3 linked regions of the Homo sapiens genome follow. The protein of the gene in region 2 purifies or fractionates together with the protein of the main gene of each other region. This does not show direct contact. Each region holds a gene or a part of one and is shown on either strand. Other genes may lie near its edges. The genes, in order: SLC25A35, GCGR and DYM.

Evidence for each region.
Region 1: the proteins of GCGR (region 2) and SLC25A35 purify together in Homo sapiens (affinity purification with mass spectrometry; one large-scale study listed by BioGRID and IntAct). This does not show direct contact.
Region 3: the proteins of GCGR (region 2) and DYM purify together in Homo sapiens (affinity purification with mass spectrometry; one large-scale study listed by BioGRID and IntAct). This does not show direct contact.

The regions. Positions count from the first base shown.
Region 1 is NC_000017.11:8,293,205-8,296,951, reverse strand, and holds the start of SLC25A35 (solute carrier family 25 member 35), read left to right. Parts: upstream 1-1,551; 5' UTR 1,552-2,144; coding exon 2,145-2,519; intron 2,520-3,747. UniProt on the Homo sapiens protein: Putative antiporter that exchanges dicarboxylates and sulfur oxoanions across the inner membrane of mitochondria.
Region 2 is NC_000017.11:81,810,596-81,814,242, reverse strand, and holds the end of GCGR (glucagon receptor precursor), read right to left. Parts: intron 3,419-3,647; coding exon 3,311-3,418; intron 3,234-3,310; coding exon 3,112-3,233; intron 3,022-3,111; coding exon 2,915-3,021; intron 2,840-2,914; coding exon 2,683-2,839; intron 2,593-2,682; coding exon 2,433-2,592; intron 2,358-2,432; coding exon 2,297-2,357; intron 2,061-2,296; coding exon 1,991-2,060; intron 1,667-1,990; coding exon 1,578-1,666; intron 1,437-1,577; coding exon 1,298-1,436; intron 1,228-1,297; coding exon 1,186-1,227; intron 770-1,185; coding exon 554-769; 3' UTR 235-553; downstream 1-234.
Region 3 is NC_000018.10:49,454,107-49,457,753, reverse strand, and holds part of DYM (dymeclin), read left to right. Parts: intron 1-3,647. UniProt on the Homo sapiens protein: Necessary for correct organization of Golgi apparatus. Involved in bone development.

The sequences.
Region 1 (3,747 bases), about 74 Mb from region 2:
GCCTCCTGGGTTCAAGTGATTCTCCTGCCTCAGCCTCCCGAGTAGCTGGGATTACAGGTGCCTGCCACCACACCCGGCTAATTTTTGTAGTTTTAGCAGAGACAGGGTTTCACAATGTTGGCCAGGCTGGTCTCAAACTCCTGACCTCATGTGATCTGCCTGCCTCTGCCTCCCAAAGTGCTGGGATTACAGGCGTGAGCCACCACGCCTGGCCTCATCTTTGTATTTGGATTCAGAACTCATTTTGGTGGTGGCAAGACAACTGGCTTTGGCATGATTTATGATTCACTGGATTATGCAAAGAAAAATAAACCCAAATGCTGACTTCCAAGACATGGCCTGGATGAGAAGAAAAGAACTCAAGAAAGCAATGAAAGGAACACAAGACCAGAATGAAGAAAGGGGGACTGCAAAGGACAGTGTTGGTGTGGCAAAAAGCCAAAGGAGTAAAGATGCTACAGTAACATCTGTGGCCACTGTGGATTTTTCACAAGATTTATAAACTAAAAACTTTTGTGTGCAAAAAAAAATGGATGGGGGTATGCTAAAGAGACACAGGAGCCAACGGAAACAGCTCTCAAAGGCCAAAGCTAGAACGAAATTAGCTAGAAAATAAATATGAAGTATATTGGATTATAACCCAAAGTATAAATGTCCATGAGTCCATACTGATTAAATAAATGGTTGAATAAATAATGGAGGAGTAGAGACAAATATCTCATATGAAAGAACTCCAGGCCAGGGATGGTGGCTCACGCCTGTAATCCCAGCACTTTGGGAGGCTGAGGCGGGTGGATCACGAGGTCAGGAGATCGAGACCATCCTGGCTAACACGGTGGTCTCTATTAAAAATACAAAAAATAAGCCGGGCGTGGTGGCGGGCACCTGTAGTCCCAGCTACTTGGGAGGCTGAGGCAGGAGAATGGCGTGAACCCGGGAGGCGGAGCTCTCAGTGAGCTAAGATCGCGCCACTGCACTCCAGCCTGGGCGACAGAGCGAGACTCCGTCTCAAAAAAAATAAAAAATAAAAATAAAGAGCCTAAGGACTAAGGATTTAATTAACCAAGCACCAACCCGTGCAGCCTCAGGAGACTGGTCCCGCAGCGCAAGTGTGTCCCTCTACCCCCCGCAAGCCGGGCCGCGTCTTCCTGGCTCTCCTGGCGCCGGCACCGAGCAGGGCGTGGACCTGAACTTATGTGACCCCACCCGGTCACAACCCGGGGTAGGAAGCTAAAGCCGTCCGCCCACCCGAGGGGCGGTCCCAGCACCCCAGTGGGGGACTGCTGCGCTCGGCCTCTGTGTTCGATCGGGAACCCAGGTCTCTTCCCTGCCAATAACAAAACCGCCGCGTCCCGGGCCTCCCTTCCGGAGCCGGAGTCGGCGGCCGAGCGCTGGTGGCGGAGCCTGGACAGTTAATTCCAACCGCCTCCGGGTGATTCCGGGGACAGGAGCGCCGAGAGCTCCTCCCTTTGGCCGCGGAGCCGGCTCGGCGCTGATTGGCTGAGGGCCTCGGTTGTGGCTCTTGAAGGCTCCCCATTGGCCCCGCGCTCCAGTGGCAGGAGTGTGGCGGCCCGGCCTCCGCAGGCTACCCGGGGTTGAAGCTACTGCGAGCTCCGGTGGCTGCCTGGGGACGCTCAGGGACGCTCATTCCTGGCCAGAGTCCTGACTTCTTTCTCGGATCGAGATCTCGTTGCTGGCTCGAGGAAATCACCGGCTCTTCTCCCGGATCCTTTTCTTCTCTCACTTGCTGGCTTTCTTCTTCCTGCCTCCCTGGCTTCCATCTCCCAACCCCGCGATTCCCTCCTCTACTCCCGTGCTCCCGTCGCCCGCCATCCTGAGCCATCCCACCTGCAACCTTCTGTCTTTTGCCCCTCCTTGACCTCAGAGGGTCCTGCCTTAAGCTTCTCACCAGAATCTCCTAGATTTCTATCTCTTCCCTGCTTGCCAGCTCTTGACTCCCAAATTCCAGCTGACGTTTGACCACTTGACATTTGACCCTGACACCCTTGACTGCAAATCTAAATTCTTATCTTCTGCAACCTGTACTGCTGAAACAGGCCTTCCCCCTGTCTTCCAACCCCGCTTTCTGACACCCATTTTTACTTTCTTACTCTTGGGTCAGTTCCTGCTACAGCTATCCCACCATGGACTTCTTGATGAGTGGCCTGGCAGCCTGCGGGGCCTGTGTATTCACCAATCCCCTGGAGGTGGTGAAGACCAGGATGCAGTTGCAAGGAGAACTGCAGGCCCCTGGCACATACCAGCGGCACTACCGAAATGTCTTCCATGCCTTCATCACCATCGGCAAGGTGGATGGCCTTGCTGCCCTGCAGAAAGGCCTGGCCCCCGCCCTCTTGTACCAGTTCCTGATGAATGGCATCCGACTGGGCACCTATGGGCTGGCTGAGGCTGGGGGCTACCTGCACACAGCCGAAGGCACCCACAGTCCTGCCCGCAGCGCAGCAGCTGGGGCCATGGCTGGGGTCATGGGAGCCTACTTGGGGAGCCCCATCTACATGGTAAGAAGAGGGCTCTTGCCTGGGACCTTCAGGGCAGATCCTCGTTGTAGGATAGGAGCTGTTCTTTCCCAAGGGCATAGGTGGCAGAGTGCTGCCCCACTGCAAGCAGGGAAAGGCATCAGGAAAGTGCTGGTAGGCTTCGGAGTCTTCTGATCTGCCCTATACACACCCATCTGATGGACACGATTGAATGTATTGATTAAGATTATGGGCTTTGGGGCCGGGTGCAGTGGTTCACACCTGTAATCCCAGCACTTTGGGAGGCCAAGGCGGGCGGATCACGAGGTCAGGAGATGGAGACCATCCTGGCTAACACAGTGAAACCCCGTCTCTACTAAAAATACAAAAAATTAGCCGGGTGCGGTGGTGGGCGCCTGTAGTCCCAGCTACTCGGGAGGCTGAGGCAGGAGAATGGCATGAACCCGGGAGGCGGAGCTTGCAGTGAGCCGAGATCCGGTCACTGCACTCCAGCCTGGGCCACAGAGCAAGGCTACGTCTCACAAAAAAAAAAAAAAAAGATTATGGGCTTTGGAATCAGACTTTCTGGAACTAAAATCCTGGCTTTGAAAATTACTAGTTGTTGGCCGGGCGCGGTGGCTCACGCCAGTAATCCCAGCACTTTGGGAGGCCGAGGCGGGCGGATCACGAGGTCAGGAGATGGAGACCATCCTGGCTAACACGGTGAAACCCCGTCTCTACTAAAAATACAAAAAATTAGCCGGGCGTGGTGGTGGGCGCCTGTAGTCCCAGCTACTCCGGAGGCTGAGGCAGGAGAATGGCCTAAACCCAGGAGGCGGAGCTTGCAGTGAGCTGAGATCCGGCCACTGCACTCCAGCCTGGGCCAGAGAGAGAGACTCCGTCTCAAAAAAAAAAAAAAAAAGAAAAGAAAGAAAATTACTAGTTGTTGAGCTTCAGTTGCCACATCTGTAAAATGGTGATAATTATAGTGCCCTTTCTGTGTGATTATTGGGAGGATCGAGGGAGACAAATGCGGTAGACATGAAAGCATTAGTGCGAATCCTGGCAGACAGTAAGCATTTGGTAGCATTTGTTTTTATTATTATGTGTTGATATTGAGGTTGGATTTGTGAAGGGGAGGATAAGGAATTTAACATACGTCAGAGAGTCTAGGGATCAGGAAGGCCCTGGGCATCACAGAATTAACAATCTCAACATCTGCCCCTTTGAGTTATCTGGTATAGGTGAAGGGTCAAGAGCCTGAGGCCCA
Region 2 (3,647 bases):
CGTCCAGGGGGACTGCCCGCCAGAACCAGGATGGGAAGGTGGCCAGGACCTGCTCAGATGGGCACAGGCTGGCTGCCTTCGGGATCCTCCGGGGTTCCAGTGCCAACTCTGAGTGAACTGGGACAGCAGGGGGACCCTTCAACAGCCCGCACTGGCGCTGACCACCCACCGCTGTTCCATCCCCCACTGCTTCGGCCCCAGCATTTCCAGCCCTGCTTTCCAGGACATGCACGGTGACCACTTGAGCTCTTTATTGTTGGAGGACATTTCCATGCACATGGGACGTGCCGACATACGTGGGGACACTGGCACGCAGTTCACGGCACAGCCCCCACTCCCGCCCTGGACTCCTCTGCTCACCTCTGCACCAGGGACAAGGCAGGTGCAGGGAGAGGAGGCCCAATCTCGCAGACAGCCACACTGGGGGTGGGGGGTAGGTGGGGGCTGCTGTTGGCTCCCCCGCCCCCAGCCTCAGCTGGGCGTCCAGTTCTGGGTTGTCCAGCGACGCCCTCTGGGTGCCAGAGTCCAGCCCTAGCTGGGGTCCCAGCAGGGTTCAGAAGGGGCTCTCAGCCAATCTAGGGAGGCCACCAGCCAAGGGGGTCTCCGCAGATGAATCCTGGCTGCCACCACCCCTCCCAAACTGCAGCTCCTTGCTGGGAGGGCCGTGGCCGGGCGAAGATGAGGCCCTGTGGTTGCTGGTGTTCCGCTCCTCCCATAGCACTTTGCCCAGGCGCCAGCGGTGCCAACGCCGCCGCAGCTCCGACTGCACCTGGGGAGGGGGACGGGGCAGGCCAGTCCTAGGGCCTGCCTGTCCTCTCCACCCCACCGGGACCTGCTGTGGGCCTCATCGGAGATGCCCAGTCTCCGCTCTGAGGGGTGCAGAGCGACACAAGCTCCCTGCTGGGCACAGCTATGCCACCCAGCATCGCCACGGAAAGCAGTCTGCAGACACCTGGGGACCCCCACGGTGGACACCGTAGCGATGGGGCTGAGGCCAACCTGTCCTGGGGGCCTGACACCCAGCGCCATGGCAACTGCACCCAATAAGAGCAGGGGGAGGGAAAGGCTTGGGCCCCACGTGTTCCAACCCCCGGGCAGGGGTGGGGCTGGCATCCCTGTGCCTCTCTCTGCCCCTGACCCCGACGGCCAGTGCTGATGGTCTCAGATGCCCCCACTCCCACCTACCTCCTTGTTGAGGAAGCAGTAGAGGACAGCCACCAGCAGGCCCTGGAGAGACAGGGTGGTCAGGGGTGGCACACTGCGCCCCGGGCGGGGGAGCCGGCGGGCGGGCGGGCACCTGGAAGGAGCTGAGGAAGAGGTCGAAGAAGAGCTTGGCGGAGCGCAGGGTGCCCTGGGCGTGCTCGTCCGTCACGAAGGCGAAGACCACTTCGTGGACGCCCAGCAGAGGGATGAGGGTCAGCGTGGACTTGGCCAGCCTGCAGAGGCAGCGCCTGAGTCACCCACCGCCCCCACCCTCGGCCCGCACCATCCACGTGGAGCTTGGAGTCCCCACCCCCAGCTGCCCTCTGGCCCTGAGGGTCTCCAGGTCTCGAGACGCCAGCTGCCGCGGCACCCACCGGAACTTGTAGTCTGTGTGGTGCATCTGCCGTGCCCGCAGCTTGGCCACGAGCAGCTGAACGATGCGGACGAAGATGAAGAAGTTGATCTGTGTGAGAAGGGTGCGAGTCAGGGGCATCCCGAGCCCCAGGGAACAGCTCTGTGCCCTTGGAAGGCCCCACCTGACCCTCCTGCAGGTGGGCCTGGCAGCAAGATAGGCCCTGGGCCACATAGCCCTGGGGCTGGTGGGCACACAGCCAGGGAGGAACAGCCTGGCTCAGTGTCCAGGGTGCTGGCCAGTGTCCTGGTGTCCTGTCTGGGTGCCGGCTCCCTCCCAGCGCTCTCAGACAGGATGCTGCTGTCTCCTGGGGCAGCCTCAGGACGCCAAGGGAGGAGGGGCCTGGGGTGCGCTCCTGGCTCTTCATTTCCTCACCAGGATGGCCAGGAAGACGGGGAACCGCAGGATCCACCAGAAGCCCATGTTGTCATTGCTGGTCCAGCACCTGCGAGGCCAGGCCACTCACATACTGGGGCACAGCCCCCAGCCCCTCCGCCCCTCAGCACCCCCGTCCCGATTTTGCCAGGATCTAATTCGGGTCTCAGAAAAGGAAGGGAGAAGGTCACAAATGACCCCCTCCCCAGGCACCAGGCTCATCCCCGGCCCCTCCCTGCCTCAGGCCAGAGCGCCGCACCCCAGCCCCCCGGTCCCTCCCCAGGCTGTCCAGCCGCTCATACTCACTGGACGTTCTCGAACAGACACTTGACCACTGCCCAGGGGACGACGAACAGCATGGGGGCACCTGTGGGGGGCAGCAGCTGTGGTCCCAAAGGCTTGGTCAGCCTGCCTTAACCCCCTCTCATGCCAGCCCACTCACCCCAGCCGATGCCCAGGTAGAGGCTGAAGAAGCTCCTCTCGGGGAGGGTGGCCAGGCCCAGCAGGTTGTGCAGGTACAGGCCCTCCACCAGCAGCCAGCAGTAGTTGGCCACGATGCCATATTGCATGAACACCGCGGCCACACGGCAGCCAGCCACCGCCTGGTACAGGTGCAGTGTGAGCGCGGCTACGTGGCCACCTGCCTGGCTGCCCACCCACCCACCTGCCTGGGGCCGCCGAGGGGGGCTCACTCCATCACTGAGCCAGGTGCTGACACTGAGGTCGTCGCCAATTTTCTGGCTGTAGCGGGTCCTGAGCAGCCCATCAATGACCAGCACGGAGCTGGCTTTCAGCACGAAGGACGCAAACAGATTCGCGTGGATGGCATTGCGGGTGCAGTGCAGCTTGCTGTGGGCACAGCCAGTCAGCGCCCGTCCTCCTCCCTGTCCTCTGCGGCCGCCCCGGGCGCTGGCGGAATCCTACCTGAGGCCCCCCAGGATGGCCAAGGCGAGGAGCAGGGCCCCCAGGGACAGGCTGTAGCCCACTGTGTACATCACCTGGAAGCTGCTGTACATCTTGGCCACCTCCTTCTGCGAGTTACAGTGGCCTGTGAGGGCCAGGCAGGGGCCCCCATGCCCGTTCCCATCCAGCCCCACCGCGCCTGCCTGCCGCCCACTGACCTGGACCTCAATCTCCTCGCCATCCATCTGGCACTGGGAGGCATCACGCCAAGGCTGCCCCCGGGGTCCACGCACCCACTGACCGTCGGGCCCGCATCTCTTGAACACGAAGCGGTGTTGCACTGGGGGTGTGGGGGGAGGCTGGGGTCAGCCCCACCCTGGGCCCGCCCCCCCCACAGTTCCTCCCCTCTATGGGTACCTTTGTGGTGCCAAGGCAGGTACCAGGGGCAGGAGATGTTGGCCGTGGTATTGGCGGGGGTGTCCGGCCAGCAGGAATACTTGTCGAAGGTTCTGTTGCACACCAGCTCTGCAGGGTAGGGTAGGGCAGGGCAGAGCAGGGCAGGGCAGGGTGGGAGAAGGGGCTCCCTCAGCAGGCCTCTCTCCTCTCTCTGGAAGCCTGAGCTCGGCCGTCACCTCGCCCAGGACATGGCCTGGGCTGCTCCCTCCCCCACTTGACCTCCACCTCCCCCATCTGACCTCCACCTTCCTCACCTGACCATCCACCTCCCCTGGACCAGCCTCCGCTAGCACGCCCA
Region 3 (3,647 bases), on a different chromosome or scaffold from region 2:
TTAATCACGCCTGCAAAGTCTCTTTTCCCAGCAACATAATCAGAGCTTCCATGGATTAGTATGTGGACATCTTTGGAGGCTATTATTCTACCTACCACAGTGTATTTTGGAATATTTTGCCGAGACTTAAGAAAGTAGGTGATTTCTTTTGCTGCTGTACATGCAACGAGAGGGCCGTCTTTTACTTAGGATTGTAGATAATGGGAATGGTTAGATCTAGAGAAGACTGTTCATTTTTCCTTTTAGTGAAATATGGGAAATACCTGTGACACTTGTAGTATAGGCTTTGGTAAAATGAGACCTTTAAAAATGATTTAAGTATAAAAGCAATACAGCTCCATGTAAAGTTTTTCTATATTTCGTTTTGGTCTCTTTTTCATATTCATGTCTTAAAACATAGTATATATGTGTAATCAGAGGGCTAACCTGATACTTGACACAGGACACGCTGGGGGCAATGATGGTTCCCATGCCCAGGATGAGAAGGCAGGGACTCTCTGTCCAAGTGGGAGATAAAGGCACCCCCATTTCAGCAGCAAAAGAAGACTCCTAATGAAAGTGAGAGAATATCTTCAGGCAGAATGAACTACTGTGAGATTTGGACTTGAAGCAGCCTCTTCTCAGGTTCTTCTGTGACTCAGCTGGGAATGGTAGAGTGCTGTGAGCCTAGAAGAGCAGAGTGATAAGATGCCCATTGCTGCTTTTCCTTTCTTCGGACAGAGAGAGGACTAATCTTAAAGATTGAAAGGATTTCTGGGAGTCCTCCAGTTTGGTATCCTGTTTCCTAGTGGGTTTCACTTTCCTACTTAGCTGTCAAAGTCCTTACTGTCTCTAGGTGTGAAGGTTCTGGCTTTCTGGTGGTGGTGCACCATTTATCAGGAAATGTGATGGGACTTATTAAATATCTGCTCTTGCCTTTAAGCATTTTTTTTTCTAGTAAGGTTTTTAGCAGAGCTTTATGCTTTGAACTTTGCTTGTAAACAGTTTGTAAGTTATCCTCACATTACTTAATTCTAGACAAAATGAACTAGTGGGGCTGGGAACAACTTTACATATAGGTCTTATTTAGTAAAAGTTTTTGTTTTTTTCATTTCTTAAGGAAGTTTGGTTAGTGATTTTGGTATCTTCTCTGATTTTTATCACATTCTTTAAAAATGCAGGCAATGAAAGTGGCTGAAACTTTCCAATAAGGACATTGGAATAATTATTTTTAAAAAGCTTATCTTTTCTTTTATTGCTCAGTCTTTTGGGCATTTAAAACCTTTTGTCCATCATATGATCGATGACAAATTTCTTTGTTAGGTTGAGTCAGTCACTGAATCTTGACAATTATTCCTTCAAAATATGTCATGCAACCCTCCACCCAGAATACTTTGAAAACCCTACCTGTATCAGTTAGGCTTAGGTTTGGCTATGAATAACAGAGACCTGAAAAATAATAGCTTAAACATATGACTAGTTTGTTTCTTTTGTAAAAGAAGTCCAGAGGTGGACGATTAAAGGCTGGTTTGGCAGCTCTGCTGTCATCAGGAACCCAGCCTCCTTGTAGTTTCTTACACTGTTAACCCTAAAGTATGGCCCTTGATTTCTGGGTCCAAGATGGCTGCTGGAGTTCTAGCTAAAATTTCCATGTTCCTAACAGCAGGATGGAGGAAGGGATAAAGAAGTGACTGTCCACTCTTAGAGACTTAAATATATCTTAGTTGAACAGGAATATGCCTGGTCAAAAAAATGGAGTTCTGTTACTAAAAGGAAGAGAGGACTGGAGATTGGGTAGGGAATTAGCATTTTTTGCTTTTTTTTTTTTGAGACAGTCTGACTCTGTTGCTCAGGCTGGAGTGCAGTGGTGGGATCTCGGCTCACTGCAACCTCTGCCTCCCAGGTTCAAGTGATTCTCCTGCCTCAGCCTCCTGAATAGCTGGGATTACAGGCATGCGCCACCATGCCCGGCTAATTTTTGTACTGTTTTTAGTAGAGTTTTCACCATTTTGCCCAGGCTGTCTCGAACTCCTGACCTCAGGTGATCCACCCACCTCGGCCTCCCAAAGTGCTGGGATTACAGACAGGAGCCACTGCGCCTGGCCTCTGCTCCTTTATAATTAATTTCTCTGAACCCAGACTAACCTACATACTTTTTGAAACTCTAGGTTTGAGTCCTAGTTCTATCATTTATTTGCTTTGGCATGTTACTCAACCTTTTTGAACTTCAGTTTTCTTATCTGTATAATGGGACTAATATATACTTTATATGTTTGTTAGAGAATTAAATGAAAATACCTCTATGTACCTAGCAATATATACACTATAACTATTAGTTGTTTTTCATTCTCTTCCTTTAGATTTCTCGACTTGGATATCTGAATGAGTGGTGTAAAAAGATGAGAATTAGAGATGGACAAGGAGAAGGATGTATATTCAGTTCAGTATTGAGCATGTGGAGTTTGAGGTGCCCTTGGGACATCAGATGGTGATAGATGTTAGGCAGTTAGATAAACGGGACTGACACTCAAAAGACAGTTCTGACTAGACATAGATATTTTGGATTGTAAGTGTATAGGGGTAGAATTCATCAATCTGGAAGTCTTAGGGAGGATGTATGCAGTTGTACGGTTACTATGTGCGGAGTAAGAAGGCATGCCCTTTAGTGAGTCTCTCTGTAAAGCGTCAAGCCTCAGCTTACTTTCTGGCCTTTTCTTTATTATTTTTATTTTTTTGTGGGTTAAGGAGTGGAAAGTCTAATAGAAGAAAGGAGAGAGGAGAGCAGCTCCTTGAGAGAGAGAGAGAGAGGTCCAAAAAAGGAGGAGGCCATGGACCGCAGCAGATTTTTTTTTTTTTTTTTTTTTTTTGAGACAGAGTCTCGCTCTATCACCCAGGCTGGAGTGCAGTGGCGCGATCTCGGCTCACTGCAAACTCTGCCTCCTGGGTCTACGCCATTCTCCTGCCTCAGCCTCCTGAGTAGCTGGGACTACAGGCGCCGGCCACAATGCCTGGCTAATTTTTTTTTTTTTTGGTATTTTTAGTAGAGACGGGGTTTCACTGTGTTAGCCAGGATGGTCTCGATCTCCTGACCTCGTGATCCACCGGCCTCGGCCTCCCAAAGTGTTGGGATTACAGGCCTGAGCCACCGCACCCGGCCTGCAGCAGATTTTTATATGGAGAAGGCAGTGTCTGATTTACATAGGGCTCACAGATTGGTTCGATCATGCATGACGTCTACAGAGTGTGTGGGGAAGGCTGGTTGCCTCAACCTAATCTTATGCAAATGGGCTTTCCAGTTGATTGGCACCATCCTGTCTGCTCCTTTACAGTACATGTGGCTGGCAGAGAAGGGAAGATGGAGCCGCCATTTTGAAAATGTCTAGTCCTTAGTTTCTGCAGGCATTATCGTGTGCAAGCTCCCAGCTTGCAGGCTGCTCTTTGTTAGAAAATGATTTGGGGCTGCTTTTCATTAAAAAGAACAGCCTTACTGAGGACTCCCATGCCCTTGCTATCTGCCTAAGTAATTCCTTGTTAACTCCTATATCATCATTCCCTGCTCTGGAGTGGCAACCCTAACTGCTGTTAGGGGGTGTTGGGTGATGACTCTTTCTGGCTACTTCCTGCTGAAAAGGGGCATCATGTGGGGATCAGCAGCTAGGGCTCCTCCT